4 linked regions of the Homo sapiens genome follow. The protein of the gene in region 4 purifies or fractionates together with the protein of the main gene of each other region. This does not show direct contact. Each region holds a gene or a part of one and is shown on either strand. Other genes may lie near its edges. The genes, in order: VDAC3, CAD, UQCRC2 and ATP1A1.

What was found.
Region 1: the proteins of ATP1A1 (region 4) and VDAC3 fractionate together in Homo sapiens (co-fractionation; 2 studies listed by BioGRID). This does not show direct contact.
Region 2: the proteins of ATP1A1 (region 4) and CAD purify together in Homo sapiens (affinity purification with mass spectrometry; 2 studies listed by BioGRID, with this or other methods). This does not show direct contact.
Region 3: the proteins of ATP1A1 (region 4) and UQCRC2 purify together in Homo sapiens (affinity purification with mass spectrometry; 2 studies listed by BioGRID, with this or other methods). This does not show direct contact.

Annotation. Positions count from the first base shown.
Region 1 is NC_000008.11:42,394,608-42,402,630, reverse strand, and holds part of VDAC3 (non-selective voltage-gated ion channel VDAC3), read right to left. Parts: intron 7,548-8,023; coding exon 7,498-7,547; intron 5,954-7,497; coding exon of another isoform or gene 5,951-5,953; intron 3,920-5,950; coding exon 3,767-3,919; intron 2,981-3,766; coding exon 2,928-2,980; intron 844-2,927; coding exon 616-843; intron 1-615. UniProt on the Homo sapiens protein: Non-selective voltage-gated ion channel that mediates the transport of anions and cations through the mitochondrion outer membrane and plasma membrane.
Region 2 is NC_000002.12:27,233,966-27,241,988, forward strand, and holds part of CAD (multifunctional protein CAD), read left to right. Parts: intron 1-42; coding exon 43-261; intron 262-552; coding exon 553-720; intron 721-1,279; coding exon 1,280-1,462; intron 1,463-1,570; coding exon 1,571-1,675; intron 1,676-2,318; coding exon 2,319-2,558; intron 2,559-2,783; coding exon 2,784-2,865; intron 2,866-3,413; coding exon 3,414-3,580; intron 3,581-3,752; coding exon 3,753-3,917; intron 3,918-4,090; coding exon 4,091-4,222; intron 4,223-4,465; coding exon 4,466-4,667; intron 4,668-5,076; coding exon 5,077-5,267; intron 5,268-5,365; coding exon 5,366-5,506; intron 5,507-5,731; coding exon 5,732-5,833; intron 5,834-6,299; coding exon 6,300-6,396; intron 6,397-6,601; coding exon of another isoform or gene 6,602-6,652; intron 6,653-6,945; coding exon 6,946-6,990; intron 6,991-7,092; coding exon 7,093-7,262; intron 7,263-7,356; coding exon 7,357-7,431; intron 7,432-7,945; coding exon 7,946-8,023. UniProt on the Homo sapiens protein: Multifunctional protein that encodes the first 3 enzymatic activities of the de novo pyrimidine pathway: carbamoylphosphate synthetase (CPSase; EC 6.3.5.5), aspartate transcarbamylase (ATCase; EC 2.1.3.2) and dihydroorotase (DHOase; EC 3.5.2.3).
Region 3 is NC_000016.10:21,969,952-21,977,974, forward strand, and holds part of UQCRC2 (cytochrome b-c1 complex subunit 2, mitochondrial precursor), read left to right. Parts: intron 1-1,573; coding exon 1,574-1,669; intron 1,670-1,971; coding exon 1,972-2,171; intron 2,172-3,944; coding exon 3,945-4,025; intron 4,026-6,215; coding exon 6,216-6,292; intron 6,293-8,023. UniProt on the Homo sapiens protein: Component of the ubiquinol-cytochrome c oxidoreductase, a multisubunit transmembrane complex that is part of the mitochondrial electron transport chain which drives oxidative phosphorylation.
Region 4 is NC_000001.11:116,375,453-116,383,475, reverse strand, and holds part of ATP1A1 (sodium/potassium-transporting ATPase subunit alpha-1), read right to left. Parts: intron 107-8,023; exon of another isoform or gene 1-106. UniProt on the Homo sapiens protein: This is the catalytic component of the active enzyme, which catalyzes the hydrolysis of ATP coupled with the exchange of sodium and potassium ions across the plasma membrane.

The sequences.
Region 1 (8,023 bases), on a different chromosome or scaffold from region 4:
TCTTCCTGGTATAGTAGCAGTGTCCAGTAGGCTCAACATAAAATACTACGTAAAAGTTCTGATTCATCCCACCAACATGGTGCAGCCTACATAACTGAATCCCAGGACTCTTTCAGAGCACCTGTTACTTCTGAATGCATTAGCGGTACCTGGGTTCCAACCGAGAATACCAGTACCTGAAACCTCCACAGAATTACCGGGATGTCCCAGGATGCTCAGATCAATTTGGTGGTGGTTGTTGGTGACCAAAACAGACCTGCTTCCAGATACTGTCAAGATGAGAGGGCAGCAGAGGAAGCAGTAACATCTCCAAAGGGTCATCTTACCATGAGGTAAGCCATGCTCTGGGCTCCCTCTATCCCAGTGGTTCTTCTACAGAGGCTGGAGCTTCCTCAAGTTTGGGGTGCAGGCTGAGGGGCCAGTGACCACCAGCAGCACAGCCTGCACACCACGTGCACCAGCCTCCTGGCAAGGTTTTGCTATGAGGATAGCACCGCAAGGATGGATATTCACCAAGGCATGCTAAATCTGAGTACCATCACTTCTCAGCATGCTAATGGCTACAATATTTTGGGCAACTGCACTGATACTAAGGAATAAATTATAAACACTCACACATGTGTGTGCAGCTGGAAGTCCGCAGCCTTGTAACCCAGGGCGAAATTATTCTGTGACAGTTTGGATTTGGCTGTGTCAAAACTCATCTGATAGCCAGCAAGCCACCCTTCGAAGGCCAACACAGCCCAGCCATAGATGGTTGGTCCAGAAAAATCTATATCAACATTACTGCCAACACTAAAACAATCCCGTTTATAGGAGGCCTTCAATTTCCCACTCTTCTTTCTGCAATAAACAAACAAACAAAAGCAAATGATGAAAACAACATGAGTTCTTACTACTGTCTAGGAATTTTTAGAGTAAGATCCTCTCTCTCATCTCCCAATGTAAATATTATTTTGGTACATGCCACATATATAGTAAAAACATTTCAAATGACCTAGTTCTACAAATATAATTTTGTTAGGATTAGACATGTATAGACTACTATCATCTATTACTCATTATAAGTTCAAATGATAGGATACTTCATGATTTATTTCATAAAAGCATGAACAAAAGTATAAGAATGAATAAGAGGCTGGGTGTGGTGGCTCACACCTGTAATCCCAGCACTTTGGGAGGCCAAGGTGGGCGGATGACGAGGCCAGGAGATTGAGACCATCCTGGCCAACATGGTGAAACCCCGTTTCTACTAAAAATACAAAAATTAGCTGGGCGTGGTGGCACACGCCTGTAGTCCCAGCTACTTGGGAGGCTGAGGCAGGAGAATCACTTGAACCTGGGAGGCAGAGGTTGCAGTGAGCCAAGATCATGCCACTGTACTCCAGCCTGGCGACAGAGCGAGACTCGTCTCAAAAGAAAAAAAAAGAATGAATAAGATATTTCAGTGCCAAATTAATAATCTGAAGGTGTATGTATACAGACGTACAAGAAGCCAAATCTCTTTAAATGTTTCCAAATGCCAAATGCCACAAAGAATTAATCCCCAATATACATTATTAACCTATCATGGAGAGAAGCATGCTTTTTTGAAGGACAATACTGAAAAAATGAAATTAGTTCTTAATAACCCTATTCCAATCAAGCCTCTTGTAGGAATATTTGTCCTGGCCGGGCACAGTGGCTCATGCCTGTAAGCCCAGCATTTTGGGAGGCCGAGCCAGGCGGAACACGAGGTCAAGACAGAGACCATCCTGCCCAACGTGGTAAAACTCCGTCTCTACTAAAAATACAAAAATTAGCTGGGCGTGGTGGTGCATGCCTGTAGTCCCAGCTATTTGGGAGGCTGAGGCAGGAGAATTGCTTGAACCCAGGAGGCAGAGTTTGCAGTGAGCTGAGATAGTGCCACTATACTCCAGCAAGACTCCATCTCAAAAAAAAAAAAAAAAAAAAAAAAGAAAAGAATATTTGTCCTAAAGATAACTGAAGTGTGTGGCAAAAAGAACACACCTGTTGTTACGGCTGAGACAAATGTCACTTTGCATTCATCTAGCAACCTCCGTCCTTCAGATAGCATGGACCCACATTAGGCAGATAGGAAATGACACAATCCCCCTTTTTTTCACGAGGAAATTGAGGTCAAGAAGTTGGGGGATTTACAGAGGCTAAGAAATCAAGTAGGCAGCAGAACTAATCATTATAGCATCTGAGAGCCAGATCACCTTCTTAAGAAATTAACTTTTCAGCACCATAAGAGAGGGTGAGGGGGAAAAAAAAGGAATTAACTTTTTTTTTTTTTTTTGAGACAGAGTCTCGCTCTGTTGCCCAGGCTGGAGTGCATCTCGGCTCACTGCAAGCTCCGCCTCCTGGGTTCATGCCATTCTCCTGCCTCAGCCTCCTGAGTAGCTGGGACTACAGGCGCCCACCACCATGCCTGGCTAATTTTTTGTATTTTTTAGTAGAGATGGGGTTTCACCGTGTTAGCCAGGATGGTTTCCATCTCCGGACCTCATGATCCGCCCATCTCGGCCTCCCAAAGTGCTAGGATTACAGGCGTGAGCCACCACGCCCAGCCAAAAGGAATTAACTTTCTCAGCAGAATACCATGTCCATCAATCTTCAGAATTGCTTAAGATTCATCTATGGTCTCAAGACTCTTCTAGCTCCTAAATTTTTTCTACCATGTGTCTCTCTCAAATACATTTATACATTTTTGCTCATCTATTCAGTTTTCAAATTGTTCATCCTGCCTTGGTGGGGAGGGATCTTCCTTTATCTGTATTACCTATACAAGGTCTCCAATATTCCTTATAGCAACCTTCTGAGTTCTTCCTGCCTCTGAACTTTGCACTATATCTCCTTATTCTAAAGCTCTCTACCCTTTCAGGCTCCAAAAACGTTTCAGGAAATGGGATTTGAATAATTACCCTGTGTTCGGTACAAATATGGTATCAAGAGTCAGTTTCAACCCTTCAGCCAACTGAAAAACAAAGATTTAAAATAAATAATTAGTAATTTTCAATCATTTATCCAACTCAAGAAACCAATTCTAAAGTTTCCTGAGTTCTTTAACAAAAAAAAGGAGTCATTCAAGAAAGCAAAATATTAAATTATGTAATAAGTAAGCTCTCCATCCTCCTGTCCCCTCACCCCAGCCTTCATCATGGTTCTCCCACTAAAAAATGGGGCAAATCCTATTTTAGCAAGTTACATAAAATACAGTTCAAAACCAAACAGAATTCCCATACAACAAAATCATCTTGATACTCTCTTGAAAGAGCAGTAATGAGATAACCTGACATTTAACAAGCAGGCTAAGTCATTTTACTCAGTTTTGCATGTACATTATCTATACATGGTATCTCTATCAAAAACAGTGCCCTGTACATAGTGGGCACTTGACTATATCTAATAGATTTTCTCCTTGAAAACATGAGAACATTTTAGAAAAATTTTTCTGTCAAGCCAATTTTTCAACAATTACAAAACTAAACCAAATTTCCGCAAATAGTTTGTTCTACCCAGGAGAAGCTTAGCTGTGTAACAGAGAACCAGTCAGAACAAAGATGTAATATAGTAATTAGAGTACTCACAAACAAAGCCTTATTTTCTAGAAACATAAGACATCAAAAAAGGCCACATGCAGAGAAAAAATATGGCTACTAGATAGGTTGTAAGATCTCTTTTGATTATATTTGGGGTATGTTCATCATTCAATCTACAAGATAAATTGAACCTATGAATAACTTCTAATGCGTTCTCTTACCTTATTCTCCCAAGAGATTTCTGTCCCTAGAGTATTGTCTGTGTTCCATTTCTGGGTGAAGGTAAGTCCATAGTTACAGACCTTATATTTGGTTTCTAGGTTGCCTGATGCTTTCCCTGTATCAGTGTAAGCATGACCAGAAGTAGAAAATTCCTGGTAAGCAAGAAAAAATAATTACTTTAAAATTAGCTCATCAAATAGAAAATATTCACTTTGGAAAGCAGTGTTCAATGTATCAAAAACAATACCATTTACTGCTTGCCACAGCCCTACTCTAGAGCAACTTCTTTCCTCCTTTCCCCTTGCTTTTCCAGTCCCTAAATATTTTAACCAGTTCTGCCAGGCGCAGTGGCTCATGCCTGTAATCCCAGCATGTTACGAGGCCAAGGCGGGTGGATCCCTTGAGTCCAGGAGCTCAAGACCAGCCTGCGCAACATGGCAAAACCCCATCTCTACAAAAAATACAAAAAATTAGCCAGGCATGATGGCACGTGACTGTAGTCCCAGCCTGAGCCCAGGAGGCAGAGGTTGCAGTGAGCCGAGATCATGCCACTTCACCCTAGCCTGGGCAACGGAGTGAGACAGCTCAATACCAGTTTCAGATCTTTCCATTACTCTACTTCTCTTATTAATATCTCTTGTTCCATATACTCTCTTACCAAATGGTAATCCTAAATTCTCTCCTTTAAAAAAGAAGTATCTTTACTGAAAACAAATGCCTTTACTAAAAAGACCAAAAATATTGTATCTTAAACATTTTACTTTCATGACCTAAAAAAAGATTATCAGTTCTCTGCTATATGTTTCAAACTATCAGTTAATTTCAAGGTCCTTAAAAATCCCAAAATACTGCCCTCCTCCTTTTTAATAGGGTCAACACTTTACTACTTCCTTTTAAAAATGTTTTTTTTTATTGTGGTAAATACATGTAACATACATTTTACCATTTTAATAATGTTTTAAGTGTACAGTGAAGTGGCATTAAGTACAGTCACACTGCTGTGAAAACTTTAATGCTTTTGTGTGCAAAACTGCAAAACTTCTGCTTAGACAATTTCAATATTTGAAAGTACTACCCATTTTTCAAAATAAAGTAGAATGCTATAATTTATCCTTCTTTCCCCCTTTCTATCCTGTCTACCTTTAAGAGTGCTTTCTATCAAACAGTTACTATGAATGAGACTCTGTCTCAAAAAAATAAAATAAAATAAAATACATCCTTTGCCCTAGTTCAGTGCCCTTTAAGTCATATGACAATAAGCAATTAGAAATGGACCTCCTTCTGGGGAAAGCAGACAGCACCTGTCACTGACAATCTATGAACTGTCAAGAAAAAACATTCTGATTGGTCCTGTTTTAGGGAGCATTTCTGAAATCCTGCCAACAGTAATGAGATGCTGCCAACCCTGACCAGTCTTTTTCACTGCCTGCAACATGAATCCTCTCCTTAACAAATGCCCTGTCCCCTAACTCTAGTTCTACAGGCAGATGAGACAACTGGGAAGTTATGTTCTGTTTATCAAACCACACAGAATGGTTTCAAAGAGAGTATCATGCTGCACATTTAGGGGAAGGCCTTAGTAAAAAAAAAATGATAACATGTTAATCATGTTTAACTGTTCACATAATTATTTTAACGTGACAATCATTTTTCTTTTAGTAGATCCAACTATCTAGTGTTTTATTTTTTACATTTACTTTTCACAAACTTGACAAGTATAACAAATGCAAATCTTAATTTTGGTGCTAGAAAAACCTTATGCACAAAATTAAGGTAGAGGGGTAGTCTACATTTCTCCCTTGTCAGCATCAATTCTTAGTTTGAAGGTCTGTCACGAATCTAAAATGCCACAGGTACAAATCTCAGAAAAAAAGGCTAGAATTGTTCTAAGTTGAGTTCCAGGCTCACGATTCACAGTTCAGTTTGTGTCTAATTTCATAATTTGGTCAAACAAGTGCAAAACACATTTATAACATGCATATAACATGCATATAGCTCTACATTAAATGCTTAGTAAGCAACAAAACAAACAAAAATGTTACTGTTAAGTAGATAGCATATGAGAAAAATATCAAGACACAATCTAAGAAATTTGGAACAATGATTGAAATTTATCCTAAATCAATACCAGAAACCAAAAGCAGCCATAAAAACAAGCATACGAATAAGCTTTTTTTTCTTACCATCTGAATGAATATTACCACACAACAGCAGCATGAAAGGGAGATAAAATTTTAGTTGATAATTTTTGCAACACAAACCTAATGAGCAAATTCTGGAACCTACACAAAATGAGAATGATTCTTCTATTTTAACAGAACTATATACACAGCGTGCCCATCTTAGTAAGGGAGGTGCATATATATTTATTTACTCCAGAGAAACCCAGGGAAAGAATGATGGTCACAAACCATGATTATACACAGTATCATTAGAATTCCACATGTCTTTGTCCTTCTAATTATACATTCAGAAATAAAATTTTCATGGGTTTGAATGGATAAATACCAAAAACGATGCAGCCAATGAGGAGAAATCAGAGTAAGGTAAATTAAAACTTAACCTACTTGCTGAGATTTATTAAATAAAAGCAATTTTTTCTGAGACGGAGTCTTGCACTGTTGCCCAGGCTGGATGGAGTACAGTGGCACGATCTCTGCTCACTGCAACCTCTGCCTCCTGGGTTCATGCCATTCTCCTGCCTCAGCCTCCCAAGTAGCCAGGACTACAGGCACCCGTCATCAGGTCTGGCTAATTTTTTTGTATTTTTAGTAGAGACGGGGTTTCACCATATTAGCCAGGATGGTCTCAATCTCCTGACCTCGTGATCCGCCCGCCTTGGCCTCCCAAAGTGCTGGGATCACAGGCGTGAGCCACCGCACCTGGCCTTTTTTTTTTTTTTTTTAAGACAAAGTCTCACTCTGTCACCCAGGCTGGAGTGCAATGGCTTGGTCTCGGCTCACTGAAACCTCCACCTCCCAGGTTCAAGAGATTCTCCCGCCTCAGCCTCCCGAGTAGCTGGGACTATGTGCGTGCCACCACACCCAGCTAATTTTTGGTATATTTTTAGTAGAGACGGGGTTTCAGAATGTTGACCAGGCTGGTCTCGAACTCCTGACCTCATGACCCGCCCACCTCGGCCTCCCAAAGTGCTGGGATTACAGGTGTGAGCCGCTGCACCCAGCCAAAAGCTATTGTTAATGATACTTTGAAAATATGCCAACATAGCCTTTACTGTAGTCTTTACTTCCAATAAAAAAAACTTTATAAACATCAGTTAAAAACTGTAGAATAATGTACATGCATACGTGCAGAAATACATTTTATTTACATATTTTGTTTCGACTAATCATGAAGGGGCAGAGTAAAGTTAATTTGTTTTTGTAAAAGGGTAATAAAATTTCCATGAACCCATTATCATGGAAGTGAGGTTTTTGGTGCCCATATACATATTCATGAAAGTATAAACATATGACATGGGTCAAAAAATATATATTCTACATCTTCTGAGTGAAAGCTGTAGTATACTCTGAGAAACACAAAAGGTCTCTTCAAAAATTCAACTTGGTTGTTTATTTTAATTGGCTAAGAATGCTGTTTAAAATCTGAGAGGACAAAGCTGTGGGGAAGACAGCATGGTGCTGGTTCAAGTAACTAGACTGTCATGATTTTAAACAGATTCCTTTAAGTTAATTATGTTACATTCATTAAAAATATATTAGATACTCACCACTCCACTACAAGACTTGGTTTTCAGGTCTATCTTGACCATGCCAAAGCCTATACACACACACACACAAAAACACAGTAATGTACAAAATGTGACATTCACTAGTTTTTGCAACTCAGAAATTATGAAATAGCCTATAGTACCTTCCATATGAAAAATGCATAGTATTTTCATTGGGTGAGAGTTCCTCAAGAAACTGAATTATAACCAAATAAATGCAGTATAATTTTCAAGCACTCAAAATGAATAAAGATATACTTTTAAAATGTAAGTTAAAGAAAAAAATAAATGAAAGGAATATGCACTATTCCAAGAATCAAAATTGCTGAAAATAGTGTGCTGCTATATATATCGTTTAAAATATAGTTAACATTACTAGTTAATAAGAAAAAATCAAATATGTACAGCACATAAATTTAAGTTAAATTTTAAAACCTAAAAAATATTTATTTAGGATCAGAATATACATTACTCCAAAGAAGTCAAAAGTTATGTTGTCACTTTCATAAAAACAATGCCACTGTTT
Region 2 (8,023 bases), on a different chromosome or scaffold from region 4:
AGAAAGTGGCCCTATGTCCCACTGTCTGTGTCCCCCCGCTAGGAGATTGACGTGGATGCCGTGGCCTCTGATGGTGTGGTGGCAGCCATCGCCATCTCTGAGCATGTGGAGAATGCAGGTGTGCATTCAGGTGATGCGACGCTGGTGACCCCCCCACAAGATATCACTGCCAAAACCCTGGAGCGGATCAAAGCCATTGTGCATGCTGTGGGCCAGGAGCTACAGGTCACAGGACCCTTCAATCTGCAGCTCATTGCCAAGGTAATAAGGCTAAAGGAAAGAACTAAAGGGCCACAGCTCTTGCATGTTCTGTGCTGGCCACAGTGCCATGAAGCCCTGCACTGTCTCCTGCCTTCATCCAAGTAGGCAGGGAAGCTGGAGGGAAAGGGCTGTAGCTAGAGCTCATGGTGTTGGGGCTTATGACAGTCAGTGACCCTGAACCCTGCTCAGTCTGATCCCCCAGAGCTGAGGACGGAGAGGAAGAGTCTAGGCCTATAGATAGTGTCAGCAAGGCCAACCTGCAGAAGGCCTGACCAGTCTTCTCTGCCCCAGGATGACCAGCTGAAAGTTATTGAATGCAACGTACGTGTCTCTCGCTCCTTCCCCTTCGTTTCCAAGACACTGGGTGTGGACCTAGTAGCCTTGGCCACGCGGGTCATCATGGGGGAAGAAGTGGAACCTGTGGGGCTAATGACTGGTTCTGGAGTCGTGGGAGTAAAGGTAAGGAATATCGAAACCCTTGGGGTTAGCAGAAAAATAGCGGGAGAGAGTTCACTCACCACACAGAGTTGTCAGTATGTAAACCAGGCACTGACTGCAAGGCATTGCCGGATCGTGGGGGTAATGAGGTGGTCATTGTCCCTTAAGAGCTTACTTTATGGTAATGGGAGGGAAGAGAAGTTGGATCCCCAAAAAAGCTTTGGTATAGAACAGTCCGTGGTAAAACTACATATTCGACCTGTAAACAGAATGCTGCAGGAGTTCAAGAGACAGGAGGTGCTGCTTCCAAAAGGGGTGATCTGGGAAGGCTTGAGCGAAGGGGTGCTATTTGAATTGAGTTTTGAAGGATGGTTAAGGTTTTTTATTTGCAAGGGCACATCCTAAGCAGAAGCTGAGGGATGACCCCAAGTACGTTTGGAAAGCAGGAGGGCACACAGAGAGGGCAGGCTGACCCTGCCATTCAGATGGGATCAAGCACAGGGTACTGTGTCCGTCTCTGCTGGTGAGGGAGGAGGTCCTCTCACACCTTGGCCCTCTCTCTTCCCTCCCGCCCCTTTAGGTGCCTCAGTTCTCCTTCTCCCGCTTGGCGGGTGCTGACGTGGTGTTGGGTGTGGAAATGACCAGTACTGGGGAGGTGGCCGGCTTTGGGGAGAGCCGCTGTGAGGCATACCTCAAGGCCATGCTAAGCACTGGCTTTAAGATCCCCAAGAAGAATATCCTGCTGACCATTGGCAGCTATAAGGTATCAGAATCCAGGAGGGCTTCCCGAGGGCCGTGGCTCCCTGGGCCAGGGCTGACCTTGAAATGGAAGACAGGAAGAAAACAATTTCATCCTTCTGTTTGGTTTCAGAACAAAAGCGAGCTGCTCCCAACTGTGCGGCTACTGGAGAGCCTGGGCTACAGCCTCTATGCCAGTCTCGGCACAGCTGACTTCTACACTGAGCATGGCGTCAAGGTGCAGGAACTCTGGCAACCTACCCCACTGCTGCCCTTCCCCAAGGGGGTGAAAATACTGCACCAAAGAATTATCTGGGCTGGGCACGGTGGCATATACCTGTAGTCCCAGATACTCAGGAGGCTAAGGCAGGAGAATCTCTTGAGCCCAGGAGGTAGAGGCTGCAGTGAGCTGCGAGTGTGCAGTGAGTGCACCACTGCACTCCAGCTTGGGAAACAGTGAGATGCTGTCTCAAAAAAAAAAAAAACAAAGAATTATCTCCTATTCCCCTGCTTTTATTATTACCATTATACTAGTAAGCTATATTCCATGCAGAAAGCAGAATACACAGGAAGCAAAGAGAAAAGTCTCTTAAAATCTCTGTACCACTGTTCTGATATTTTTCCTTCCAGGATTTTCTCTGTGTACATGTGTGTGAGCTCATACTGCACCTAGTCCTTGGTAACCCATCTTACTTAGTGTAGATATCTTTCCTGCCAAGAAATACACTTTGCCAGTATCAAATAGAGGCAGCCCTCAGTGCCCACCCTATGGGTCCTCAGTCTCCTCATCATGGGCTCCTGGGCCAGCTCCTCTCCCTTAAGGCTAGCCTTCCTGACCGCTGCCAGACAGCTTGGCCCTGACCTTGACTCCGGGTTGGCAGGTAACAGCTGTGGACTGGCACTTTGAGGAGGCTGTGGATGGTGAGTGCCCACCACAGCGGAGCATCCTGGAGCAGCTAGCTGAGAAAAACTTTGAGCTGGTGATTAACCTGTCAATGCGTGGAGCTGGGGGCCGGCGTCTCTCTTCCTTTGTCACCAAGGGCTACCGCACCCGACGCTTGGCCGCTGACTTCTCCGTGCCCCTAATCATCGATATCAAGTGCACCAAACTCTTTGTGGAGGTAACTGAGACCCATGTGCTGGGAGGGAGACTGCCAGTGTTGATGGGAAGAAGAAAGAGGGAGGAGTGAGTATGGAACAGCCATGCTAGTAATAAAGCTTTGTGGCTACAGAGGGAGAGATGGTGGGTATAGAGTGTGCAGAGCCTGGTTTATGGGAAAACCACATCTCTCCCTACAACTCCCAGGATCACCCTTCCCTTAAAGCTGACTGCTTTCCACTTGCAGGCCCTAGGCCAGATCGGGCCAGCCCCTCCTTTGAAGGTGCATGTTGACTGTATGACCTCCCAAAAGCTTGTGCGACTGCCGGGTAAGTCTTTGGGGAGAACTTGGCTTCTGAACACTGGCAGCCCCTGGCATAGAGACCTGCAGTGTGGTGAAGGATGGCTGGGGGGCCCACTCTTTGTCCTGGACTGCACAGACTGTGAAGACCCCAGAATGTTTCTCACTCTTTCATTCCTTAATCCACAGTGTCCACAGTGGCCTTGTCTGAGGAATTTTTTTTTTTTTTTTTTTTTTGAGACAGAGTCTTACTCCATCGCCCAGGTTGGAGTGCAGTGGTGTGTGATATCGGCTCACTGCAACCTCCGCCTCCCAGGTTCAAGCGATTTTCCTGCCTCAGCCTCCCAAGTAGCTGGGATTACAGGTGTGTGCTACCACACCAGGCTAATTTTTGTGTTTTTAGTAGAGACGGGGTTTCACCATGTTGGTCAGGTTGGTCTCGAACTCCTGATCTCAGGTGATCTGCCCACCTCGGCCTCCCAAAGTGCTAGGATTACAGGCGTGAGCCACCATGTCCAGCTCACCCTTCCTATTTCTGAATCTTCCTGTAATCTTGCTGCTTCCATTTTCTCCCAGGATTGATTGATGTCCATGTGCACCTGCGGGAACCAGGTGGGACACATAAGGAGGACTTTGCTTCAGGCACAGCCGCTGCCCTGGCTGGGGGTATCACCATGGTGTGTGCCATGCCTAATACCCGGCCCCCCATCATTGACGCCCCTGCTCTGGCCCTGGCCCAGAAGGTGAGCCACTGCACTCTTCCTGGTATTGGAGACCCATATGCCCCTACCAGCCACCCTTGCTTCCCTGAGCCCTTTTCCTTCTGCCCCGCCCTATGGGCCCAGGCCACTGGTGCCAGGCTAGCCTGTGTGGGCATGGGTGCCAGTGAGCCTTACCTCTGTGTATCCTCTCCAGCTGGCAGAGGCTGGCGCCCGGTGCGACTTTGCGCTATTCCTTGGGGCCTCGTCTGAAAATGCAGGAACCTTGGGCACCGTGGCCGGGTCTGCAGCCGGGCTGAAGCTTTACCTCAATGAGACCTTCTCTGAGCTGCGGCTGGACAGCGTGGTCCAGTGGATGGAGGTAGGGAGTGTGCATGTGGCAGGAGGCCACCACCCAGTGTCTCCTGGCTTGTGGGCCCCTGCCTAAGTGGGCTGGTAGCAGTGAGGATTCAGGGGAGCTCCTGGGGACTCTGGGCTCTGATGAGCACAGTCAGAGATTCTGCACACTCCTTCATCAGTTCTTTCTGCTCCCAGCATTTCGAGACATGGCCCTCCCACCTCCCCATTGTGGCTCACGCAGAGCAGCAAACCGTGGCTGCTGTCCTCATGGTGGCTCAGCTCACTCAGCGCTCAGTGCACATATGTCACGTGGCACGGAAGGAGGAGGTAAGAGTACACCTGAGATCCTGCTGTCCCTGTTGCTTTCCCAGTAACACCAAAGGTCAGGGTAGTCCTTAGGGGCAGGAGACAGCAGGAGGAGAGTCTGGAGACAGCAGGAGGAGGGTCTCGAGCCAGCACCCTTGCAGGTCTACATCATCATTTTTTGAGCAGGGATGTTGGCCATTGGGACTTTGTGTAGGGCAAGGCATATGGGTGGTGCCTCTTCTGGATCTTCCCATTGTTCCCCAGATCCTGCTAATTAAAGCTGCAAAGGCACGGGGCTTGCCAGTGACCTGCGAGGTGGCTCCCCACCACCTGTTCCTAAGCCATGATGACCTGGAGCGCCTGGGGCCTGGGAAGGGGGAGGTCCGGCCTGAGCTTGGCTCCCGCCAGGATGTGGAAGCCCTGTGGGAGAACATGGCTGTCATCGACTGCTTTGCCTCAGACCATGGTGAGAGAATCCAGCATGTACCTCCTCTGCCCAGTGGGGCTTGTGGGACAGCCCTAGCAAGAAAATGGGAAGCAGGCCAGGCCTCAGGACTCTACTAGGACAGGGTCTTGATCCGTATGGGACCCTAGCCTCTAGGGTACCTGGTCTGTGATAGGTGCCTGATAAATACTTGTTGAAAGAATGAATGAGCCAGTGAGTAGAACTGCAAGTGAAAGAATACATGGGTAAAAGTGTGGGCTCCAGAAGATGGCAGCAGTCCTGTTGCCCTTGTTTCTAGTTCCCAGAAAAAATGAGCATTGGGAGTGGTAGTGAGCATAAGGAGGTTGTTGGAAGTGCAGTCCTGGGGTGTGAGTGACTTCCTAGACATGGAGGTGATTGGTCCTGAGGGTAATGGCTTTCTTTCTCCCAGCTCCCCATACCTTGGAGGAGAAGTGTGGGTCCAGGCCCCCACCTGGGTTCCCAGGGTTAGAGACCATGCTGCCACTACTCCTGACGGCTGTAAGCGAGGGCCGGCTCAGCCTGGACGACCTGCTGCAGCGATTGCACCACAATCCTCGGCGCATCTTTCACCTGCCCCCGCAGGAGGACACCTATGTGGAGGTGTGGGGATGAGGCCCAGAGCAGGAGGGGGGCTCTCCAGCCCTAGGATATGTTCTCTGGGGATCCTTTCCCTAGCATAACCCATGTCCTCTGGGCAGGTGGATCTGGAGCATGAGTGGACAATTCCCAGCCACATGCCCTTCTCCAAGGCCCACTGGACACCTTTTGAAGGGCAGAAAGTGAAGGGCACCGTCCGCCGTGTGGTCCTGCGAGGGGAGGTTGCCTATATCGATGGGCAGGTACGCAAGTAGCCCCTGCCTGATCTCAGTAGTGCCCTCTTCTGCACCACGTTCATTTCTTCCCTTCCCAGCACATCTACACTGTCCCACTATGTGCACCACTGCCCTGGACCAGGGGTTGGGGGCACAGCTCCCCCAAGGTGCTTTTTGTCCTTGCTGACATCTACCCCTTTAGGACCTGAGTTCTCTCTGCTCCCTCCTGAGTGCCCTGCCTTCTGCCTGCAGGTTCTGGTACCCCCGGGCTATGGACAGGATGTACGGAAGTGGCCACAGGGGGCTGTTCCTCAGCTCCCACCCTCAGCCCCTGCCACTAGTGAGATGACCACGGTATCCACACTACTGGGCTAGGGGGCTGGGAGGTGTTAGTCTCAGGGCAGGATGAACAGCTTGAACATTTTCATTGGTGGTTCAGGAACAATTGGGGTTTTCTTGAGGGACTGAATTTGAAGTGGGGTTGGGTCAATTATTTTTTTAAAATGCTGGGCCAGGCCAGATGTGGTGGCTCACACTTGTAATCCCAGCACTTTGGGAGGCCAAGGCAGGCGGATCATCTGAGGTCAGGAGTTTAAGACCAGCCTAGCCAACATGGTGAAACCCCATCTCTACTAAAAATAAAAAAATTAGCCAGGCGTGGTGGTGCACATCTGTAATCCCAGCTACTTGGGAGGCTGAGGCAGGAGAATTGCTTGAACCCAGAAGGTCACGCCACTGCACTCCAGCCTGAGCGACAGAACGAGACTCCGTCTCAAAAGAAAAAAAAAAAAACAACTCTGGGCCAACGTTATCCCTCCAGACACCTGAAAGACCCCGCCGTGGCATCCCAGGGCTTCCTGATGGCCGCTTCCATCTGCCGCCCCGAATCCATCGAGCCTCCGACCCAGGTTTGCCAGGTAAGAGTGGGGTTCCTGTGACTCAGAGACTGTGTAGGGACAGGATCCACTTCTTCCCAGTGCCTCGCCTTTCTCTACTTACATGTCCTCCTCTCCATCCCTTTATCCTCGTCTGATCTGCCGTGCCATCCTTTGCCTAAACAAGTCTCCCCGGTGTGAGTAGACATCTCACAGCTTCTCACATGCCCTTTTTTGTTGTGGGCAGCTGTGTTCCTCCGCCCAGGAGCTGGGATCCCACGGGGCAGCAGAGCGTGGGGTAAATCCAGGTTGTTGGTTGGTGTGAGTCTGGCCGTTCCTCTTGCCTAGGATGCCTTTGCCAACTGGGAGAGCCCCGGGAGGGCACCACTGCTCCCATACAACACAGCCCCATGGGAAGCCACCTGTCTGTCCCCAGAGCTGCTGCAGTCCCCTGCCCTCCCCTAACCTGCTATATTACTGTGTTGTGAATTGGTTTAACATATACACTGTGATTCAGAGTTCCTGGGAATATGGGGTTTCTTTCCAAACCTCAGCCATAAATGTATATCTGTCCTCTTGTCCTGTTTGCAGCTGAGGAGCCAAAGGAGAAGTCCTCTCGGAAGGTAGCCGAGCCAGGTGAGACTCCACCCTGACACACACTCACCTCGGGGACCTCTGATCTGGCCTTGGTAGGAGGAACCCTCTGACCAGCCTTTTCTGCCCCATCCCTCACTGCAGAGCTGATGGGAACCCCTGATGGCACCTGCTACCCTCCACCACCAGTACCGAGACAGGCATCTCCCCAGAACCTGGGGACCCCTGGCTTGCTGCACCCCCAGACCTCACCCCTGCTGCACTCATTAGTGGGCCAACATATCCTGTCCGTCCAGCAGTTCACCAAGGATCAGGTGCCTGGGGCAGGGAGGATGGGACCACCCAGAGCTTTGAGGATTTGGAAAGCTGGGGCTAGGACCTTTCTAGCTAACTTGGGCTCTTTCTTAGATGTCTCACCTGTTCAATGTGGCACACACACTGCGTATGATGGTGCAGAAGGAGCGGAGCCTCGACATCCTGAAGGTCAGGATCAGGGCCGGGGGTAGGGTCCAGGCCATCGCCTGCCCTTGGGCCGCATCAGCGCAGGGCCGCGCAGTGGTCAGAGTGGGTCTTCCTCCCCCTGCCATCCCGTCCCCTTATGCTAGTCCATCCCTCTGCTGCTGTAGATCTTCCCCCACGTTTTCCCTCCCCAAAGCAGGATTTAGCTGGCTGGGGAGGCCCTGAGCATGAGACCATCGCCCCACTAGTGGGGTCTTCTGGTCTGGGCTGCTGCAATCATGGGAGAGAGCTAGGGTGTGTCCTCCTTTCCCAGCTCGTTCAGACACTTAATGATGGGTGGTTTTCTGGAGGCAGAGCCTTTAGCTCAGAGTGACACCAGTGGTGGAAACGTCAAGGCTCTGACAGGTCACAGGGGAGGTTTGGGTGCAGAAGGGTCCTCACAGCACCCCTCAAGTGTCAGTTGGGGTGGTGGTGCCTAGCTGGGGTTTCCCCAGGGTGGACACGCATACGTACACCTTCCATCTTGCTCTTTCCCTAGGGGAAGGTCATGGCCTCCATGTTCTATGAAGTGAGCACACGGACCAGCAGCTCCTTTGCAGCAGCCATGGCCCGGCTG
Region 3 (8,023 bases), on a different chromosome or scaffold from region 4:
TTGAACTCCTAGGCTCAGGTGATCCTCCCACCTCAGCCTCCTAAGTAGCAATAATCTACTTTGTCTCTATAGATTTGACTATTCTGGACATTTCCTATAAATGGAGTCATACGATATGTGGCCTTTTGTAACTGGCTTTTCTTACTTAGCATAATGTTTTCAAGGTCCGTCCATATTGTAGCATGTGTCAATTCAATGTCTTATTCCCTTTTATGGCTCAAGAATACTCCATTACCACATTTTGTTTATTCATTGATTGGCATTTGGGTTGTTTCTACCTTTTGGCTGTCGTAAATATAAACATTCACGTGTACATTTTTCTTAGGAAACCTGTTTTTAGTTCTTTTGGTTATGTCTAAGAACAGAATTGCCAGGACATATGGTAACTCTGTTTAACCATTTGGGGAACTGCCAGACTGTTTTCCAAAGTAGCTGCACCATTTTACATTCCCACCAGCAATGCACAAAGGTTTTGATTTCTCCACATCCTCACCAACACTTATCGTCTGTCTTTCTGATTATGAACAACCTACTGGGTGGGAAGTGGTCATTGTAGTTTTGATTTGTATTTCCCTAATGACAAATGACATTGAACATATTTTCATGTGCTTTTTGTCCATTTGTATAACTTTTTTTGTTTGTTTGTTTTTTTGAGACAGAGGCTTGCTCTGTTGCCCAGGCTGGAGTGCAGTGGCGCAATCTCAGCTCACTGCAACCTCCACTTCCCAGGTTCAAGCAATTCTCCGGCCTCAGCCTCCCGAGTAGCTGGGATTACAGGTGCATGCCACCATTCCTGGCTAATTTTTGTAATTTTAATAGAGATGGGGTTTCACCATGTTGGCTGGACTGGTCTCGAACTCCTGAGCTCAGGTGATCCACTTGCCTCGGCCTCCCAAACTGTTGGGATTACAGATGTGAGCCACCGTGCCCAGTCAACTTTGGAGAAATGTCTATTCAAGTCTTTGCCCATTTTTAAGTTTTTTTTTTTAATTGTTGAGTTGTAAAGGTTCTTTATATATTTTGGTTACTCAAGCTGTTAGCAGATATATTATCTGCAAATATTTTCCTGCATTTCATGGGTCCTCTTTTTACTTTCTTGATACAGTGTTCTTTGATGGACAATGCAATGTTGTTTTAAGAGCTAACTATTAGAAACATGCTAGCGTCCATTAGGAGGGGATTGATCAAATAAATGGTGGTAGAGCCATAGAAAGGGATTCTTTATAACCATTAAATATTTGATGTAGACTACTCACTTAGAAATTTGTAAATTATGAAAGATAAGTTAGAAACAATATCAATAGAATGATACCATTTTAGAAATAAATTGAAGATAATATTAACTACACAGAAAATTCTAGATGAATAGTAATACTAAGTATATAGTAAATAGTTTAGTAATAGTAAACTGTAATTGGGTATCTCTGGGAGAGTGGCATTATGGCAGGAAGACTCTTATTTATTTTGTAGTGTTAGGATTTTACAATCGTATTTTTAAAACAAGGAAAAAATATTTTACGATTGTGTTTTAGTAATTGTGGTTCTAGCTTTGTTTTTGCTTCTGTTGAAACAGGTGTGAGTCATCCTGTTCTAAAGCAAGTTGCTGAACAGTTTCTCAACATGAGGGGTGGGCTTGGTTTATCTGGTGCAAAGGCCAACTACCGTGGAGGTAAGCATTTCATTCTATTAGGGTTAATTTATCAGAAGGGCGTTTCCCCACTAGAATAGCATATTGAGGTGGAATAGGCCTGAATATTTACTACTGAACAGTCTCGGCATAGAATTGGATGGCTTGGGTGTTGTATTTTGAGCATATGTTTTGTGTGTGTTTGGGGACAGGATGGCATGGGGAAAGCACCGAGCTGCAGAAAAGACTCGTGGGTTAATACTGTGTTGTAGGAAATACTGGAGAATGAAACCAATGGTGAACAAGCCATTTTCTTCTTCCCTCTATCCTTAATCTGGCCCCAGGTGAAATCCGAGAACAGAATGGAGACAGTCTTGTCCATGCTGCTTTTGTAGCAGAAAGTGCTGTCGCGGGAAGTGCAGAGGCAAATGCATTTAGTGTTCTTCAGCATGTCCTCGGTGCTGGGCCACATGTCAAGAGGGGCAGCAACACCACCAGCCATCTGCACCAGGCTGTTGCCAAGGCAACTCAGCAGCCATTTGATGTGAGTCTGAACAGTTGGTATCTCTCTTTTTGCTTTCAAAGGCTCAGTATTTAAGATATAATTCTGATAATCTACTCTTAAAATGTAAGACAAACACACAGAAAATCTTTGTACAATTGAAGAGATAGCCAGGCTTGATTTTAGTATCTTTGAAGGCCTATCAAAAACTCACTGGCTTTTCCACTTTGTCTATTACTTGTCATTAGTAATATAAAAAGAGGAATTGAATGCTTAGAAATAAAGGGAATCCACACATCCGTTCCCTTTAGAATAAAGTTGTAGATATTAAACTTTCCCCTAGATTCTAACTAGTCTTTTTTTCTAGATTTTCTTCTGTCCGCTTCTGTTCTTTTGGTTACTTCCTGAATCTCACTATTTGTTTTCCAACCAAGTGGACAAGATGAACACCAAGAAATTGTTTACAGACTCACTCATTCAGCTTGAGATTAAATTTGAAAAGAAAAATGAGAGGCTGGGCACAGTGGCTCACAACTAAAATCCCAGCACTCTGAGAGGCCGAGGTGGGCGGATCACTGGAGGTCAGGAGTTCGAGACCAGCCTGGCCAACGTGGTGAAACCCCCATCTCTCCTAATCCAATGAAGTAATTTAATAGAAATTCCTAGTTCAGAACTCAGCCAGAAATTTAGAGTATAAATAGGATGGCCTCAGAATTATAATTAAAGAAATTGAAGTCCAGGCCAGGCACAGTGGCTCACGCCTGTAATCCCAGCACTTTGGGAGGCCAAGTTGGGCGGATCACAAGGTCAGGAGATCAAGACCATCCTGGCTAACACAGTGAAACCCTGTCTCTACTAAAAATACAAAAATTGTCTGGGCGTGGTGGCGCACGCCTGTAGTCCCAGCTACTTGGGAGGCTGAGGCAGAAGAATCACTTGAACCCAGGAGGCGGAGGATTCAGTAAGCTGAGATCGTGCCACTGCACTCCAGCCTGGGTGACAGAGCAAGACTCTGTCTCAAAAATATATATAAATAAATAAATAAAAGAAATTGAAGTGCCTTCTTATGCTTTACGTGGACTGAGCCAATGGTTCTCCAAGTTTATTGTACATAAGAATTACCTGGAACACTTGTTAAAAATCTGGGCTTCCAGGCTGCATCCACAGGGACCTGAGTCAGTAGGTCCATTTTGGGAATCTGAAAGTTTGTATTTTTAATAAGAACTTAGATAATTTTTATGTAAATGGTCCACATAAACACTGCAAATCGGGTTCACCCTAGAGAGCTAAAAGCTCTGCTCAAACTAGATAACAATATCCCTGTTATTCAGAGGTTAAACTCTTGATAGCTTGGACATCTGGATAATGACCACTAAGCAGAAATTTTTCTCTAACTTTCTGACATGAGTGTATAAGAGAAATGAAAGTAAATTGGTGAAAAAGTCCCTACCAACAGCAGAGAGAAGAAACCTGGTCTGCCTAATGCCAAAGCCTATCTATATTATAATAATAATGTTTGCAGATTAGTGTTTGCATAAACCTTTAATCATCTAAAGCAGGTTAGAAAATACCCAGCATAAAGGAAAGGGAGCAGTCATTTTAGAAATATTTAAATGAAAAAACAAAGCCGTGATAGTTCTGAAAGAGGTAACCTATTTACAGAATACTTCAGTTCGTGACAGAACTGGCTAAGTAAAATATTAATCTATTTTGTTTATACCGTGAAGGTCCAAGTTTTTTCTAGGCAAACTTAAAGAAATCGTGCCCTGTTTTACTTGGTAGAATATCATACAGTAAAGTCTCATTATCTTTCAGGTTTCTGCATTTAATGCCAGTTACTCAGATTCTGGACTCTTTGGGATTTATACTATCTCCCAGGCCACAGCTGCTGGAGATGTAAGTTGCAAACTCACCAAACTTCTTTCATGAACAAGTTATTTCTCCCCCCCGCCATAAACATGTTTTCGGTTAAAATATGGAATGTTTGAATGCAGTGCAATGACTTATCAGAGCTCTGTATAGTATGATGTCATTGAAGCATTATCTGCTATAGGGAAATTTACACATGTATACTAATGCTTCCAGGAAAGAGGAGAGAATTGCCTCCTTCATGTTTTGGTTCTGGTTGGACAAGTTGCATTGAGTTGGCTCTGAGACATCTAAATTGAGAACCCAGGAGAGGGGAAGACCAGGAGGTTTATTTGCAAGTCTTCAGTGTAGAGATTGTGTTGAAATCAGGGATATGTGTGAATGATTGTAGGAAAAGAAAACTAAAGCTCAATTTCTGGGAAACAACACCATTTAAGGAGCAAGTGGCTAAGAAAAATGGCCCAGGTAAACAGAAAGAAAAAGAGAAGCTGATATATTTGAAGGATAGGAAAGAGAGTATGTTTAACACCATTTTGACCCACAGTGAAATAACATTCATTACCACTGAGAAGTCTGGTAGTTTCAGCAAGCTAGGACATCATGGGTGATCTTAACAGTTTTGACTAGAGTAGTGGAAATTGGGTAAAATGTGTAGTGATTAAGGAATGAATGACAAGTAAGAAATGAGAGGTTGGTGTGGGCTAGTGGAGCTTAGACATTCAAGGAGCAAGTTGTTTTAGGAGAGTTTACACTGAGAGATTAGGTTGAAAGAGACATACTGAGCAAAAAGATCGGAGCAGATATCGGAGATAGAAAATTATAAATGGCTCAAGTCTGAGAAAGGAATACTTGGGATCCAGCACACAAGTGGACCTTTTAGCCTTACAGACAGGCTAATATTGGAAGATATTGGGAAGATGGGGAAGTACCTCCTCAGTGAGACAGGAGGCTAAGTCATGTTTTGACAGACGTGAGAGGAAAGTTTAAAGAAAGTAGTGAAGTTTGGGACAGACAAATAGTGAGGTACACAAAAAGTGGGTATTCGCTGTAGTGTAGATGTATCCTTGAAATCAGCGACCACAAATTCATAGTACAGTCAGTCAGCACTGTCATGTAATTTTTCTTCAGTTGCATTCAGAAGCCTAATAGAGAAATGGAGGAGGTAGGTATTAGGGTTAATCCCAGGTTGGAATCCTGCAAAGTGGGCAGGTGAGAAGTATGAGGAGATAGCAAGGGAGTTGGGAGCATTGGCAAGAGTGATTAAAAGGATGATTCAGGGATCTAGGCTCAATAGAGAAGTGAAGCCAGAGGGGGCCTGATAAATTGAAAGACTGGACAAGTCAAGGAACTAGAGATCTTGATAAAGTGGAAGAATAAGGATAGTGAGATTAAAGACTGAGGTCGGGGTCTTAGAATTGAGGGCTTCAGAGGTATGCAAATTTAGGCTATGATCAGGTCTGGGGTGTGGCTCTGAAAATGGGCAGCTAAAATGAAGGGGAAACAGAGGTCCTAGAATTTAGGTGATCAGAGGGAAAAATAAGTAGCAGACCCAGCCAGCACTGGGATGGAGAAAATCATGGTCAGATTTATTTATTTATTCAACAAATATTTACCAAGTACCCACATCCCCGGAACTTTATTCTTTCTTTCTTTTTTTAAATACCATACAAGGATTCAGATTCCTTCTTGACCCTGGCTTACAAAGTATGGACAAGCCTTACAAATTGGCTGTGTATGGATTACTACTCTCTTCTTAGTGAATAGTAAGAGATAGCAGTATTAATGGCATGACACTGCAAGAGTCTGGGGAAGTTTTAAAGGTGCTTATTCTTTATGGGTGATTAGAAATCCATGTGTTTGGCCGGGTGTGGTGGCTCACACCTATAATCCCAACACTTTGGGAGGTTAAGGTGGGAGGATCACTTGAGCCCACACATCTCTACAAAAAAAGCTAAAAAATTAGCCAGGCCTGGTAGCATGCACCTGTAGTCCCAGCTTCTTGGGAGGCTGGGGCAGGAGGATTGTGTATAAACAGCTGCTTTATGAACATAGGAAGAATAAGGAACCCATAGTGATGACAGCATTCCGCATGGACACTGTGCTGTTTGTCTGGAACTAACCTTCCATCTGTGTTTTTGCCTCAGTAAAGAAGTGTGTCAGTGCTGCAGGAGACTCTGGTACTGACCACAGATGACCAACTTTTCTTATCTGTCCTAGGTTATCAAGGCTGCCTATAATCAAGTAAAAACAATAGCTCAAGGAAACCTTTCCAACACAGATGTCCAAGCTGCCAAGTAAGTCTCAGTATTAACTGTGTTTTATGTTTTTGTTATTTGAAAGTTGTATTCTTTTCAGATTATAACAATATTACAATCTATGCTCATAAGGACTGAGAAGTACAGAAAAGCGTAAAAAGGGAAACATACCCATATCCTACCACCTAAAGATATAATTGTTAACATTTTGGCCAGGCACAGTGGCTCACTAATCCCAGCACTTTGGGAGGCCAAGGCAGGTGGTTCATTTGAGACCAGGAGTTTGAGACCAGCTTGGGCAACATAGCAAGACCTCGTCTCCACCAAAATTAGAGAATAATTGTTAACATTTTTCTTAGTTTATTGATCATGCATTTTTAAACATAATTGTTAATATTGTATATATAGATGCTGCTTGACTTACACTGGGGTTACGTCCTGAGAAATGCGCATATCGAAAATGCATTTAATACCCTAATAACCCAGTCATCCAGCCAAACAAACATAAGTCAAACCATCATAAGTTAAGTTAGGGACCATCTGTATACTTTTTTATCTTATTTAAATAGCATCCTTATTATAGAAGTTTGAAAATTACAAATAAAAGACAAAAATGATCTCTGATTTCCCTAGCAATGATTCTGTTTCCATTGATTCAAATTACTAAAAATTTAAACAATATTCATTGGTGTGTCAAAATACACTTGTGCATTTTCTGCAGTTATAAAGATATCTTTGGGCTTAAAATATTTTTGTGTTTCGTATTACTTTCTTGGTGTAGATTCCCAACTAAGTTAAGAGTTATAAACATAACGAAAGACTCCATGTTAGAGTGTGTGTATGTGTGTATGTTTAAATAATACATTTGACTAGGCGCAGTTGCTCATACCTGTAATCCCAGGACTTTGGGAGGCTGGGGCAGGAGGATCACTTGAGGCCAGGAGTTCAACCAGCCTGGGTAATGTGGCAAGACACTGTCTTTACAAAAAGATATTTAAAACTAGCCAGGTGTGGTAGTGTGTGCCTGTAGCCTCAGCTACTCAGGAGGCTGAAGAGGGGGGATTGCTTGAGCCCACGAGTTTGAGGCTGCAGTGAACTAAGATCACGCCATTGCACACTAGCCTGGGCAACAGAGCAAGACCCTGTCTCTTAAAAAAAAAAAATGTATTTCTAAGTCACAAATCTAAAGAGATTGTACCAGTTTATAATCATACCACCAGTATATAAGAGTACCTATTCTACAATAGTTTCTTTCTTCATAACTAATTTATACCCAAAAAAGATCTGATTTTGTTTTGTTTTATAAGAAAGACTAAAATACTTGTCTGCTATTTGGCAATTTATAAATCCCCACTGTCCAGATTGAAAGTGCTATCAACACTCCTAATTCATTAGTAGTTCGAGGGTTTCTCTAAAAGAGACAGACTTGGGACAAAGTTGGAAATCAACCTGCATTTTCATACAGCCGCTTAAGACATTTAAGTTTGACTCCATCTACTTAGAACAATTCAAAATGTGAATCTTGCAACTCCAGTGGTCGTTATGATCATTTAGTATTGCCCACAGGGGAAGCAGAATTACAACCCAGGATGGAACAACCTTTTGGTCATTTCTGTTCCCATTAGTATTGTTAGTTTTGTTATGCTGAGCACACTACAAAGTTGCATCTCTTGTATAAGTACAACACAATTTATTAAATATTGTATACATAGAACCAAGAATCGATAGGATGCAGGGCTGCTTGATTGTACCAGAAACAAAACATGATGA
Region 4 (8,023 bases):
CCAACCTCATTTCATGTTTTTAAGGATTAAATGATACAATACATCTAAATGCTAGTACTTTTATACTGTTTATATTCTTTGCTTTGCAAAGACATTATTACATATCAAATTTAAATATCTTTAGTGCTCACATAAGAACACTGACCTTTACCAGCTTCCCATATTAAAAAGTCAGCCTAAGACTCCTTAAAATTCTTTGCATAAGAGATAAAAAAGGGAGCGCCCAGCCCATTCTGTAGCCTGAAAATAAAACCTCCAAAATGAAAGTCTCTGGAAATGTTTTGACATAAGCAGGATGTAGGAAAAGCGTGTGCATTATCACATAATTCACAGGATCCACCTACGCCTCTTGAAAACTGGAACAATTTTTAAAGAAAATGTTGATTCTATAGTTTAAATTTAGATTGTTCCACTCCCCCACCCCTGTTGAAAAATCCTTGAGCTTATCTACACAAAGCCTGAACTTGGTGCTCCAAAGCTTAGCGGAGCAGAAGAGCCCCTTGTTCCAGACACCTCCCCCTGAAGCAGCCTCCCACAACTACAACTTAAGGCCAAAAAGTAGACATTAGCAATTTTCTTAAAATGCATGACATATGGTGCTATTACTATTATTTTGTGGTTCTCCTTTACTCATTTCTAACTTTCCTAAGTGCATTACCAGCTACTAAAGCAATAATTAGGAACTCGTGTCCAGATTATAATTTCACTGTGCTGAAATGAAAAAAGAAAATCAAAACGTATTATGTGTGTTTCAGTCATAACTAATAGTTGCAAATAAAATACATTGTTCACTTAAATTTAAAAATATCCTCTTAAGACTCCAAGGAGAAATCCTTCTCCAAATTCACTGGAGTGGGCCACATGTAGAGACACATTATTTACCTTTTTAACTTCTGTGGTCACGTGTGCAGCACTACTTGACTAATAACTTCTTCCAACTGGGTGGGTTCTTTAGTTTCTATCTTATCTATTAATGAAGCAGGTCTAAAGATAGTCAACATTCTTGACATTCTCTCCATTATGGAGCAACCACATTTGTTGGTGCCTCTTTCGGTACAGCTCTTGGTGCCAGAGTTTAAATGAAAAATAGTAACACATACAAGTGGACAAATAAAACAAAAAGGAAAAGGCAGGTCATCTACCAGAAAGGAACCACAGCTAAAGTGGTATATCTTTAGCTTTAATTAAAGGTATATCATACCTTTAATGAGAAAGCACAACACTTAAAAAACATTTTAAAGACATTGACTAAGGATCTCTAAAAGATTTATGTGACCACTTTGTATTAATTTTCTTTTTTTTGGGGATGGAGTCTCACTCTGTCGCCCAGGCTGGAGTGCAGTGGCGCAATCTAAGCTCACTGCAACCTCCGCCCAAGGGTTCAAGCAATTCCCTGCTTCAGCCTCCTGAGTAGCTGGGATTATAGGCGCTCGCCACCACGCCTGGCTAATTTTTGTATTTTTAGTAGAGACGGGGTTTCACCATCTTGGCCAGGCTGGTCTTGAACTCCTTACCTCATGATCCACCCACCTCGGCCTCCCAAAGTGCTGGGATTACAGGCGTGAGCCACCGTGCCCAGCCTGTATTGATTTTTAAAATACAGCTCACGGATTCTCTCTGAGCAAGTTGAATATCATTGAAATATATTTCAATAAATGAAATAGTTATAACCCCTCAGCTTCATAATCTGCATGCTTTGCTTATTCTCAGACTTCCAATATCTTCCACTCCAGAAGAGGAGAGAGGATTACTAGAGCAGCTAGGCTTTGAACACGTTCCAAAGTTTTACCCCCACTTACAAAATAAATGTCTTGCCCATAGCTTCACCACTATCAGTGCTAAAGTTAGTTGGGAATTTAGATTCCCTAATAACTCTCCTTTTTCTTTATCCATTCATGCTAGGTAAGGCAAAGTTTTAAATGAGGCTATTTGTGGGTGAGACACATGGCAAGTATTAACAAGTAAAACTGCTTTTTCTTCAAAATTTTAATTTTTTCACTAGGCAATGTGTGTCTAGAAGAACCAGGCAGCTTATACAATTTAGTTCTTCTCCACAAGTAAAATAATAACTTAATATTAGCTTATTCTTGTGGGAACCAAATATCCTTAAATCCCTATCAGTCTCAATTACCTCAGTCTCAAAGCTGCAAAATTCAGAGTCAGGGAGTGCACACTGCGTGAGATGAACAGTGGTAGAATCAGGTAGGACAATGTTTCCTTATTATTTTTTAAGGCATTAGGGAAAAACAAAGGTCATGGGAAGGGTGAATGATAAATACGGCATTTCCTCAATCAACTACAGTAATCTTCCCACTCATCTGGGCATTGGGCACACACTTCCTACTTTTTCAATTAGAAAGTTCAGGTCACTTCCCCCCTCCCAGAGGACTGGGAGTGATTAATCCTCACTCTCATCATGTTCCATGTAAGGGCACCCCCGCCCCTTTGAGCATCTCTGAGGAAAGGTACAATGGAAACTCAACGGATTACACTATTTTCTAAAGGGCCACTCATAAAAATGAAGTTGGGTTATGGTTTTTTTTTTTCCCCCTTCCATTCTAATTTAGGAAGTGGAAAGTCACAGCAAGGGCAGGGGCTTACCCACGGTGACACAGCTTAGCACAGCGTCATCATTTCATCCTGTGCTTCCCATGGATTCTATCCTCTCAAAGATTAACTAAGCATTTTGCTATTTGATCTGGGTAGAGGGAAAAGGTGCCCAAGACATGAGAAGATAAAATTCTTGACAGGAGGAACCAAGGTTAAAACATGTAACAAGGTTCACTCACTTAAAAATATATACCGAATCCTCACAGTCCTCACAATGAGTGAGACATCCCCGAGACTTGCTAGAGCTGAAGATGTTGCTTCCTCTTTTTTGGCAATTAGCCATTTAATGGGGACAGGGTTGGGGATAGATATGACAGATTTAGAAATTATCCCAAAATAAGCAGGATCTTCCATCCCAGAGGTATATTGCTTCAGGTCTGCATAAGCTATAGCCACCGCCAAAGGCCTTCATACCCATCCCAAACACCAGCCTCCAACAGGGCAGGATGCGAAGGCTTTCTCAACCTGCATTTTTCCCACCATATCAGCACAATGTCCCATGGCCAGCAGGGAGCTCAGAATTCTTGAGACTTCTGAAATTCCTGCTGAAAAAGTTTAGAGGGTACTTGAAAGTTCAAGACCCACCATTCCCTCCAGACAGGTCTGCTAATGGTGTTGAGTCTGCCAATTTATTCTAGTGTTGCCACATGCTGGCTACATGACCTTTGCCTGTCAGCCTTAGTTTCTTCATTCCTAAAATGGGAATAACACTTGGTATAACTATTAAAGAACCTAGAGAAGGCATTTTCATAGTCTGATTAGTCAAGAAACCATTAACTCTGAAAAATAAAACACCTTAAAAACTGGACTATTTCCAAAGCCCACAGACAAAAGCTTTTGACGGGCAAGAAGGGCCAGAAGGATGGCAAAAGGAAGTGCCCCAAATGCAGCCCATTTCGGAGTTGCCAAGAAGATTGTAGAAACAACACCTCTGGACATGATTTGGCAAATACCACTTTAGCAGGAAAGTTGTGTGATGGACTCTGACCTTGCTGGTTCCCTAGAGGCTGCCAAGTCTGGGCTACCTTCAATGTAAAAGGTAAGGGGGAGGGGTGCTTTCTCATTTTCCTGGTCGATACATTATTAAATCATCCAACACAATTGTGTATGTAAAAGTATTCTCAAAGCACTACACAAAGGCTATTATTATAACTTGGTCTTAATTAACATATACATTACTGCCATTTTTCGCTTTCTATGAAAATTCTTTTCAAACCTTTGAAGAAAAAACTCCTTTGGCATTATTTTTCATTTGATCTTAACAGTGAAAACTTAAAGAAAATAACAGTCAAGAAATGATCTAGCCCAGTTTATTACATCTCCATTTGCTCCTAAATGACTAAGTAGTTTAGTTTATGTGCAAGGAATTGTCTAGCCAGGGACTGGAGGGCTAAGGGATGGCCGGGGTTGAGGGAGGACACTGTCATAGTACCATGGCTGCTATCCAGCCCCAGCAGCAGCACATCACTGCAGGAGCAGCAGTTCTCTGCAGAGGAGGTGAGCCTGAGGGGCCACCATGCCTTCATATTCCTTCTCTTGCCCACCCAAATATGCATCCTGGAGAATATAATTTACCAAGGCCAAAGCAGTAGATCCCTTTGTGAGCCCAGTTTAGTATATCCAAACTTGGGCAGCCCAGCAGCCAGCAAGGGTCAAAGAACAGCGACAGTTCTAGCCAGCAGGTTCCCTCAACCCAAAAGAACATGACTTAACCTTCCTCCCCAATCTGCCTGCATGTCAATTCTTAATGAGCCTGACAGCCTACCCTACCTGCAGTAGTGTACATCCATGATCATTCAAAAAATAAAAATTCTAAAAGGTGTAAAGAATCAGTGCACTTTAGATATATTTTTGCTTTTACAGTTATTAAGAACAATCAGACAAAAACTTCAGTTTCTTCAATGGAAAATTCTACCTCTACATTAGGTGCATGGGTTATGAAGGGTTAAAACTTTCTACTTATTCCTTAACTCCCCCTTTCTGCTGACCACCTTACCCTCCTTTTTTTCATTTTACCAGATTGCTCTGGTTAGAGACAACTGATTAATAATCAGCATATGCGTTATGAGAGGACCAGATCAACTCCCAGTAAGTCCTGATCACTCCTCAATTAGTACCCTGAAGCCTAGGCTAGGAAGGAAAATGACTGCCAGGCTGAAGAGGATAAAGGCTGTCCAAGGCCCTAAAGAAATGTCACATGAATTGAAATAATAAAACAAATATGGTGCCATGGAAGCATCATGTGGAAGATAAAAGAAACACACAAGAGGATAACCCCAAAGTGCATTAGGGACCTGCCCCTACATGGTAACAGACTAGAAAGAGCAATCACAGCTCACCGATCTACACAGCAAGGCCCACTGAGTCACAAAATCTTACACTGATTATCAGGCTCCCAAACAATACAAGTCCCAAGGACAAAGCACGAACTATCATGAATCAACTTATCAAATCACTGAGACAGCCAATAGTCATTACTAAATAGGGTTTGAATAAAACTGGAAAGAGATCACGTGCAGATATATTTCATCATAACTCACAAAGGAACTAGTAAGTGAGGTCTAAAACCAGATAAAGAGATTCACTGTAAAGTCACAAAGGAACAAAGGAATGAGGTCTATTGATCAAAAATCCCTTTGCTCAGGATGCAAATAAAAACCAAACCAAAGAGAAAGTGTAGGGTGAAGGGTACTTCTTTCGTAACAGAATCTGCTATCCGAAACACAAAATAAATATGAAGAACTTCTTGTGGATTCCTGACAACAGATTTCAGCACAACTAATGAGGTGAGTCATATGCTAAGAACAGTCTCTCTATGACTCCAGCCAAAGAATACACACTTCCTCTCATACACTCAATTCATAGCAACGTGAGAAAGTTCAGACCTGACTAGGTTCCACATCCCTCCCCCAAAATATATAAATGGAGAGTTTTAAAATGAGTGAGTAGGTTTTACAGTTCTCTCTACTGCACATTATCATGTACTGGACATGTACTTTCAGTGTAATCTAGAATTGGACAGCTCTGGCAGGGATGGGAAACATTTTGCCTGGTGCTTTGCCGTCCAAACCCAGCCACTCTGATTACTGTGAGCCCATCTGATCTGACACTCGGGTTTCTTCTTCTAGCCTGTTGGCTGGCAGAGAGCCCTCGGCAGCTAGAAGAAGTCAGCACAGCACAAATGTTCAGGCTCCCTCTCATCACAGAAGGCCGAAAAGCCCATTTTATTTTGCAAGACTTCAAAAACGTAAAAATGATCATCAACCGCGAACAAAGTCCTTCACCTGAGAAGTGAAAGTAGACAGAAAGATGCTATTAAACAGGAGATTTGCTTGTTGAGCGAAGATAACAGTTGCAATAATGTCAATTGACACCTCTACTTGACTTTCCTATGAAGGGCAATTAACAGTATTTCCCATTATTTTCAAACCTTAATATGTTCTCATGGTGAAAGAAAAACTGCTCTCTAATTTTGCAAGGGCTAATGACTTACTGACGAACAACAAACCCAGTCTGTAAAGATTTGATCTTCTCTTGGCTCTAATTACTGTACCTATGTAAGCCCAATAACAATAGCCACAACTCAGGCTGGCACAGCACTCCTTCCATAAACAGAACATAGATTACTTCACTTGATCCCCAGGATGAGCATTCTATCCAAAAGCCAGATGAGAAACTGAAGCTTCAGGGCTTTTATTTTATTTTACTTTTAAACCTGTTTGTTTTTAAGTGAAGAAACCAATTTTACTTTACCATACAAAATCCTTCAAAGCTATTTTAGTTAAAGCCTTTCTTATTCTTAAGTTTAGATATATTTAAAAGAACATAGCCTGATTTGAATGGAAAGTCACTTATCTGTTCATTTGTTGCTAAAATAATCCGAAAACAATGACTGAGGGTACTGGCATGGAGCATGGATGAGTGCCAAGCCTATTGTGCTATAAGATGTTGAGTTCACTTTTATTTTTGAATGCAATTTAGGAATAACATTCCCAGGAATCTGTATATTTTAAGTGTTAGCCCTCATCTGGGCAAACATCTAACTGAATTTTTAAAGGCATCTTTTTTTTTGTTTTTTTGTTTTGGTTTGTTTTTTGGGCTCTCAGGTTTACCACTCTCTCCCCATCTTCCCAGGTTTAGGAGGCAGGCCTCTCCCTTTCCTACCCTCCCACCCGAAGGTGAGTCACTAGAGTGTTACAAGCTTACTGGCAGGGAACACTACAAATTAACAAACAGTAAGTTACCAAAAGGGGATACACCCTTATAAAAGGGTACAGAAAGAACCTAAGAAGCAGGGAACTGTTACACGCTGAACAACTGACAGGCAAAGGGTGAGGCACAAGTGCTCTCTCCACCCCCCAGCTCTAGGCACTAGTTCTTCCTGTAACTTGCTCCACTAGCTCCCGGCCAGGCCCGGGCAACTTTCCACTCTGAGGCATCTGCCTTACAATGCTTTAAGTCTAAAGTACTAGCTTTATAGCAGCCAGAGGAGCTTTAGTCACACTTTCAAGCTGAGCTCCAAAAGGGCAGCTGATAACATTACCATACAACCAGGATTTCTGCTGACATGTGCATCCCCCCTGCCACCTTCACTGGAACCTTTTTTCCCTGCCCTTCCTTAAATCACTACTCATAAGCTATGATTTATTTTTTCGGTAAATAATATTCAAACTAAATCCGGAATGCAGTGAAAGACCTGGTGAGACCCCCCCTCCTCATCTTTTACACACTTGAGAAGACAAACTTTCCCACATTTCTAAACAGTTATGGCGTGTACCTTTGGTGAGTGAAACAGTTGCCGGTGGTAGGCCTAGCTGACGGTTTAAGCCAAGTCACTGGCAATAAAACCCAGAAAGAAAAAAAGGGACAAAATCCTATTTCATCCAGGAATGATTCAGCAAGAGCTGTTCTTTCATTTTCTTACCAAATGCTTAGGAACTAGACTTTTAAGGACATATAAAATCACCTGAAATATCATCAAAAGCTAGGCCACAAAGGGTACTGAGGAGAGGAGGGGAAGAAATTTACAATGACCTTAAAAATTAGCTGCCGGCACAGGCTTCCTTGTTAGCCAATTATCAGCAGGGCTTTAGTCACTCTCCACCCACATTTTAATCCCCATGTGGAAAAATCCCAACATGAAATATTCTTCTGAACATTTGGACGCTCACAATAAGTCACAGGACAAACACACACACAAACACACACACAAGTAAACTAATGTTTAATGTATCAGAATACTCAAAATGCTAACTACCACCCAGCAGCCAAGCAGCTCATCATCCCAGTGTTCGCAGCTGTAATTTAATCTTGTGTTTGCTAGCCACTATACATTTTGTTGTAAGACATCTGGGTTTAAGCTCTACTAACTATTCAGGTGGGTTACCACCGCATCACTACTGTGCATGTGTGC